Homo sapiens: one gene and its partner. The protein of the gene in region 1 interacts with the protein of each later gene in a biochemical or structural test. Each region holds a gene or a part of one and is shown in the gene's direction. Other genes may lie near its edges.

Region 1 (3,600 bases):
CGGAGTCTCGCTCTGTTGCCCAGGCTGGAGTGCGATGGCACAATCTCGGCTCACTGCAACCTCCACCTCCCGGGTTCAAGCAACTTTCCTGCCTCAGCCTCCTGAGTAGCTGGGATTACAGGCACGTGCCACCATGCCCGGCTAATTTTTGTATTTTTTAGGAGAGACGGGGTTTCACCATGTTGGTCATGCTGGTCTGGAACTCCTGACCTTGTGATCCACCTGCCTCGGCCTCCCAGAATGTTGGGATTACAGGCGTGAGCCACCTCGCCCAGCCTCAAACATACTTTTAAGGCCACCAGATGCAGCTGTACAACTGAAGTACATACACTTGCCATTGTAAAGCCTGCCACCAGATGCAGCTTGTCACTTGCCACTCACTGATAGTGTTTTGATATGAGTCTGCAAGCAATTGATTTATGATGGCCTCTGTGCAGTGAAACCTCTCTGCTAATGTTAATCCGTATTTGCAGCCACTCTCAGCACTAGCATCAGCAACTCAGCTCCACCTCCCATCATCAGGCATTCGATTCTCGTAAGGAGCACAGCCTAGTTCCCTTGCGTGCACAGTTCACAATAGGGTTCGGCTCCTGTGAGGATCTAATGCCCCCTGATCTAACAGGAGGCTGAGCTCAGGTGGTAATGCAGCGATAGGGAGCAGCTGTAAATACAGATGAAGCTTCGCTGGTGGCTCACCTCCTGCGGTGCCGCCTGGTTCCTAATAGGCCAGGGACTCATAGTGGTCCGTGGCCCAGGGGGGTTGGGGACCCCGTCTTAAGCCATCCAGTTTGTGGCACTTTGTTATGGCAGCTGCAGCAGATGAATATACCCACCAACCAGACCAGGCTCCTCCTGTTACCTTCCTGACCTTGACAAGCTCCTGACAACACCTGAAAAAACAGATGTCCCAAGGGGGTTGGAACAAGGAGGGAGCCGGGGCAATGTCAGTTTTGTTTTTCAAGCCTTTTTTTTTTTTTTTTTTTTTCCTACAGAGGAGGAGGAGGGAACGCCTACAATAAAGAGGCCTTTATGGTCCCACTTCAGGAATCGGAGAACCCCGCCCTCCTCGTCTCAGCCCCAATTTAACGGGTGCATGTGTGAGTATCTTATAAAGTGACGCGTTTTGAGGGGGACTCCAGTGTGAGCAGGACTGTGGCTGACTTGTCAATCATCATTAGGGTGATGTCCCAAACGTTCAAGTCTGAGGCCCAGGGAAATTGGCAACAGCTGCCTGGATGCCTCCATCCTCCCAGCCCAAGGAAAATCTGGCCTTGCTCCTTCGTTGTCTTTCTTAGGAGCACGTGGAGTTCTCCTAGGTGGGCTTGCACTCGGGGTCGCCCAGCCGTTCTTTGAGGGTTCGAGTGGGTAGGCTTCCCCTGTAGGACGGGCTTCCCCGTAGGTTTCCACGTGGGGCCACAGAGGCAGGAAAAGGGGAAGTGGGCACTGACACCTGGGGTGAAAAAGGGTGGGGGTGCGGCTTTGTGAGGAAAGAATTTGCAGAGACTGCTAAACTGGGGTCTGCTAGGATACCCCACTCCCCACCCCCTGCCTCGGGCGCCCTCAGCCACCCGAGCTGGGGGCCTCGCAGGTCTCAGACCAAGCTCCCCGCGCGGCCTGCAGCGCACCCAAACATGGCCACCGAACCCGGGTTCCCGGGGCACAGCCGCGCCTCTGGGTGACGCAGACGCGGCGGGTTGCATCAGCCCGTGCCCACGTGCTCGGTCCGCCCTCTGCCACCCGGATCCGGACGCCGATTGGGCCACGTTGGGAGAGTGCCTCCGCCTCAGCCAATGGGCGGCAGCCACAGAGCGTTCTGTCCGCAGAGCCGGGCGCGGGGCTTCTATAAAAGGCGCCCGAAGCGGGGGCGCGCGCCCCAGAGACGTGAACTGTCGTTGCAGAGATTGCGGGCGGCTGAGACGCCGCCTGCCTGGCACCTAGGAGCGCAGCGGAGCCCCGACACCGCCGCCGCCGCCATGGAGTCCGAGACCGAACCCGAGCCCGTCACGCTCCTGGTGAAGAGCCCCAACCAGCGCCACCGCGACTTGGAGCTGAGTGGCGACCGCGGCTGGAGTGTGGGCCACCTCAAGGCCCACCTGAGCCGCGTCTACCCCGAGCGTCCGGTGAGAGCGGCCCCGACTTCCCGCCCCTAGGCTGTGGCCCCCCGCCCTCTGCTGGGGATGCCACGTCCGGCTGCCCTGTCCTGTGGCCTCCTCCCGCTGACGGCTGCGATCGCTCGGCCGGTCACCTCCCCCAGGGCTGTGGTCTCCCCTTCCCTGCCCCGCCGACGCGGGCGCCCCTCTGTTGCCCAGTAGCCGTCAGTAATCAGCAGCCTGACCTTGGGCGAGTCATTTCACCCTCCAAGCCTGTTTCTCCCCCAGCGGCCAGGCAACTCGGTGTTCCTAATTGGGCTTGCATCCAATGGCTAGAAGTAAGAAAACATCCGTGCTGCAAAATGAGGTTTCTGAACGCAGCCTCTCTGCAGGGAGAGGAGCGGGCAGGTGCCACCCGGGGCCGTGGCTTGAGAAACCTGGGGACCGCCCAGACACTGTGGACGGAAGGCCCCACACCCAGAAGCAGGACGTGGCTCTTCTCCTCCCTGGCCACCTTCCGCCGTGCCCCTCCCTGTCGCACTGGACCGAGCAGCCATTGCCGAGTCCCGGGGTGGAGCCCCGTGCACTTTCTGACCAAGAGCGACTGAGAAGGGAAGCAGGCAGGAGTCGCCTTCAGTCTGGTTTTAGGACGGCAGCCTCTCCATTATTAGCAAGACTTCCTTGCTTTGTTTTGGTTGACACATCTGTCAACATCACCCTTAGCACCGCCTGCCCTGGCCACCACGTGATGAGGCTGTAAGCTGGCCCTTCCTGTATTTACTTTCTGCTCTGATATTATGTAAGTGTCAGCAGTGTTCTTCACTGCCCACGAGCATAATTCTTCATCACACAGGAGAGGGCATCCGGGCAGGAAAAGATAGTGAAGTCGTGAGTTCCAGCTTGTGGTAGCGCCTGTGTCTGTTTTTGTTTCATATGGTCAAGAATGTTTTAGAAGTGAGTTTTCCTTCTGAGTTGTTATTTTGAAATTTGCATATTTATTTAGTAAGCTTGCATTCCATGTCCTCTAGAATTCACCCTGGCACATTTTTCAGTTTCACCATAGCTGCTTCCAAGAAACTGGGTGGCTGTGTTGCCATGAGAATGACTATTGGGTACACAAATTGGTGAAGCAGGTGTAGCCTATGGTTGCATCATATGGCAAAAGGCAGGATTTTGGCGGAGGATTTTTAAGGTCTTCCTTTGATGAGGAATGCCGCTCCCATCTGTTCAGTCTGAAGACCTAACATTGTAAACAAATACCTCTCAGGTATACAAATTTGTGTCTAAAAATTATTATGGCTGAAACATACTTATCATTTGTTTTCTGTAGTAGAAAATGGCATAATATGAGAAGGCCTACTTTGTAATAGTTGTTTGCTTTACTTAATATTTTTCAAATCAGCCATCTGTGTGAAGACTCAATATCAAGTTAGGCCTTTAAAAGGGGGAAAATAATTCAAAACCACTGGCAGCTGTGGTTTTCCGGCCTTTTCTATTGGTTGAACTCTGT
Region 2 (3,600 bases), 510 kb from region 1:
TGGGTCCTGCCTCCTTCCCAGTCCTCTCATGGAGTAAGATGCAGTTACCAAGAACTAGAAGTATTGGTTAAGAAGGCTTGTTTGGTTATTGCCAAAATGTCCTTCCTTGAGAACAACGGTGTGCAAAGTACCTTCTTGGAGTGTGTCTTGGAGTGGGAAAGGAAAAAGTAATGGTAGAAAAATTACTAATTCTAGTAAAAGATCCAAACACAAACGATTTACGTTCTTTTGGGTTAACTTCCCCCATTCATGTGAAGTTTCAGAAGGTTCAAGCTTCTAAAAGTTTAATAAGGGCAGATCTGTTAACAGCAGCCTGTTTCTAAGGGTGATGGGACAAATTTGGTTTGTGACAGTTTAGAACTACTGTGGCTAGGATTGAATAAAGATTGCCAGTCAGTGGTTTAAAAGTTATGGTGGCTCAGATCTTGACCTGTAAAGTAGAACACTTCCCTGGAAAATTACAATAGTTTTTCAAAATAAAGCTTTCCTTTATTTTACTGATAAAGTTTAAAGTTTAGCATTTTAATTGCATGGCTGTGGGAAGAGAACCAAAGTGAATTCAAGTCTAGTATTCATATAGACCTTGTATTAAAAAAATGCACGTGTGCAAAGGTAAGGCCTCTCCCTGTCCCGGTAAAGCCAAACGTTCATCAAAGACCCTTTAACAAGATGTTTCTAAAATTTCCAAAGTGGAATTGTAAGCTTGAGAGATCTTTTGTTTTCTAGTTAATAGACTTTTAGAATATTAGGCATGAAAAAGACCTTGAAAGATAATTTGGTCCTTTTCTTTAGAAAGTTTGGAAAATCCTACAAATATTTACAGAGCACCTACTCTGGGCTGAGAACTCTTACAGGCCCTGGGGATGCAAAAGGAATAAAACTCCCAAGGTAACATTTTTTTCCTTTGGTAACAGCTTATTGAGATACAATTCGCATATTGAGATAGAACTATTTAAAGTGTACAATGATTTTTCAATTCAGAGTTGGGCAATCATCACCTCAATTTTACATTTTCATTACTTTGAAAACAAACCTATCCCAGCCAGTGACTCACGCCTGTAATCCCTGCACTTTGTGAAGGCAAGGTGGGAGGATCACTTGAGCTCAGGAGCCACAGACTGGTCTGGACAACATAGCAAGACGCTGTCTCTACCAAAAATTAAAAATTAGCCAGGTGTGGTGGCATACGCCTGTAATCCCAGCTACTGGAGAGACTGAAGCAGGAAGATTTCTTGAGTCCAGGAGATGGAGGATGCAGTGAGCATGCCACTGTACTCTAGCCTGGGCCACAGACCCTGTCTCTTAAAAGAAACCTGCACCCTTTATCACCCCCTACTCCCCTCTTCCTCCCATCCCTAAGCAATCATTAATCAACTTTCTGTGTCTGTATATGTACTTGCCTATTGTGGACATTTCATATCAATGGAATCACACAACACGTGGACCTTTGTGGCTGTCTTCTTTGACTTAGCACGTGTTTAAGGTTCGTTCCTATTGTAGCATGTATCAGTAGTTCATTTTTATGGCCGAATAGTACATTTTATGGATGTATCACATTTATCCACTCATCGCTTGACGGACATTAGCGTTGTTCCCATCTTTTGATTGTTAGAATGTAATCAACATTTGTGTACAAGTTTTGTGTGGAGGTATGTTTCCACTTTTCTTAGAGGAGTGGAATTACTGGGTCAAATGGTCACTCTTGTTTGACTTTAAGGAAAGGACAGGTTATTTTCCAAGACAGCTGCACCATTTGACATTCTCACTTCTGGGGTATGAGGGAACACATTTTTATTTCCCGCTAAATCAGGTTCATTTTTTAGTTTCTGCTGGAGGCTACTAGCAAACAGCAGAAACTTGAAAGACTGTTAATATTCTTTCTTCTGGGGTTTCGGGCACCAGGGAAGCTGCGCGGCCCCTAGGAGTGCTGGGGGTAACCTCTTCAGAGGGTTAATGGGGTGGGGGGGGGGCAAGTGGCCGACGGCCTGGTGGCCAGGGTGCCCCGCGCCCTGAGGCCCTGCCCGCCTGCCAGCGCCTGCGAGCCCGAGTGACCCCTGCGCCGCGGCCGGAGCAGGTGCCCTCTGTGTCTGCGGGCCCAGCCAAGCCGTGGTGCGGACGGCGGATGATGCTGGGTGCCCGCCCCCCGGCCTGAGGCCCGGGGCTACGCCCGCTAGGCGGCGGCGCGACCGCTGGGGGCGGGGGACGAAGGCCGCGCCCCTGCGCCCGTCCCGCCAGCGTCCCGCTGGGGGCGGCGGCCTGTCCCGAGCCCGCCCAGGCTCTTCCGCGCCGGCAGGGGCAGCAGCGGGAGCAGCGCGGGGCGGAGCGGCGCCAGCAGCCAGGAGCGGCCCGGCCCGGCCCGGCGCGGCGGCGGCGGCGGCAGCGGCAGCGGCAGCGACGCCAGAGCCCGTGGGCGCCGTTCGCGAGGCCGCCGCAGAGGCCCGGCCGCAGCGCAGGGAAGCCTGGGGGCCAGAGGTCGCCGCTGCCGCCATGCCGCTGCTCTTCCTCGAGCGCTTCCCCTGGCCCAGCCTCCGCACCTACACGGGCCTCAGCGGCCTGGCCCTGCTGGGCACCATCATCAGCGCCTACCGCGCGCTCAGCCAGCCCGAGGCCGGCCCCGGCGAGCCGGACCAGCTAACGGCCTCGCTGCAGCCTGAGCCGCCGGCGCCCGCCCGGCCGAGCGCCGGGGGACCCCGGGCCCGCGATGTGGCCCAGTACCTGCTCTCAGACAGCCTCTTCGTGTGGGTGAGCGAGGCGGCCGGGCCCGCGGGGCAGGGGCGGGGTCCGCTGCGTCACCCTTTATCCGCGGGGGCGTGGTGGGCCTAGGGGCCCCTCCGCCAGGGACCCCCGAGGGCGAGCGCCTGGGGGGCGCGGCCTTGCTCGCGGGAGCGCTGCTGAGGGAGAGTGGTGAGGCGCGGGGAGGGGGAGGGGGCCGCGGGCGGGAGGAACATCGCGTGGGGTTGCGAGGAGGAGGCCCCGAGGGGCAGGCCAGCGTTGAGGGCTCCGGGAAGGGGGTCGGGGAGGCGGCGGGTGATGGTCTGCGCTGGGGCGCGGACGGGGCCTGGGGCAGGGGAAGGGGTTAAGGGGCAGTGGGGAGGAACGGGCTGGGTTTTCTGAGGGACCCTCGGGAGAAACTAGAAGATCTCAGAGGGCAGGTTCAAGGGGAGGTCGGGATCTGGGAGTGCGTTATCCCGAGGGTTGGACGAAGTAGAGTGAAGTTGAAAGCTTTTCCCACTTGGTCAGGCATGGGATTGTTAGCGGATTTTCTTCCGACGAAGAGGAGAGGGCAGAGGGGAGAATTCAGACGTTGAGTATGGGGGAATTTTCGGCACTCAGGTGTCTTTGGACATTCCGGTTGGAGAGAGGCCGTCTCCCACAACTTTTTTGCCGCTTAGTATTCGATTGTCCCCTTTGGGAGCTGTGTAATGAAACAAACACCAAACTGTGCTTCCTTTTCTGCTGCCTTTACCTGATGTTCATGACAGTTTTCCTTTGATGTCTGAACGCAGCAAAACATTCACAGTGTCAAGAGGCAGCCCATCATTTTAACTGAATGTTTCTTATTTGAGGATCTATTCTAACACAGTTTCCAGGTTGTCTGCC

The links.
Region 2: of the proteins of HERPUD1 (region 1) and AMFR, one has a biochemical effect on the other in vitro, tested with the Homo sapiens proteins (6 studies listed by BioGRID and IntAct, with this or other methods).

What each region holds. Positions count from the first base shown.
Region 1 is NC_000016.10:56,930,272-56,933,871, forward strand, and holds the start of HERPUD1 (homocysteine-responsive endoplasmic reticulum-resident ubiquitin-like domain member 1 protein), read left to right. Parts: upstream 1-1,870; 5' UTR 1,871-1,973; coding exon 1,974-2,120; exon of another isoform or gene 2,121-3,023; coding exon of another isoform or gene 3,024-3,044; intron 3,045-3,600. UniProt on the Homo sapiens protein: Component of the endoplasmic reticulum quality control (ERQC) system also called ER-associated degradation (ERAD) involved in ubiquitin-dependent degradation of misfolded endoplasmic reticulum proteins.
Region 2 is NC_000016.10:56,424,215-56,427,814, reverse strand, and holds the start of AMFR (E3 ubiquitin-protein ligase AMFR), read left to right. Parts: upstream 1-2,269; 5' UTR 2,270-2,487; coding exon 2,488-2,742; intron 2,743-2,825; exon of another isoform or gene 2,826-2,904; intron 2,905-3,080; exon of another isoform or gene 3,081-3,600. UniProt on the Homo sapiens protein: E3 ubiquitin-protein ligase that mediates the polyubiquitination of lysine and cysteine residues on target proteins, such as CD3D, CYP3A4, CFTR, INSIG1, SOAT2/ACAT2 and APOB for proteasomal degradation.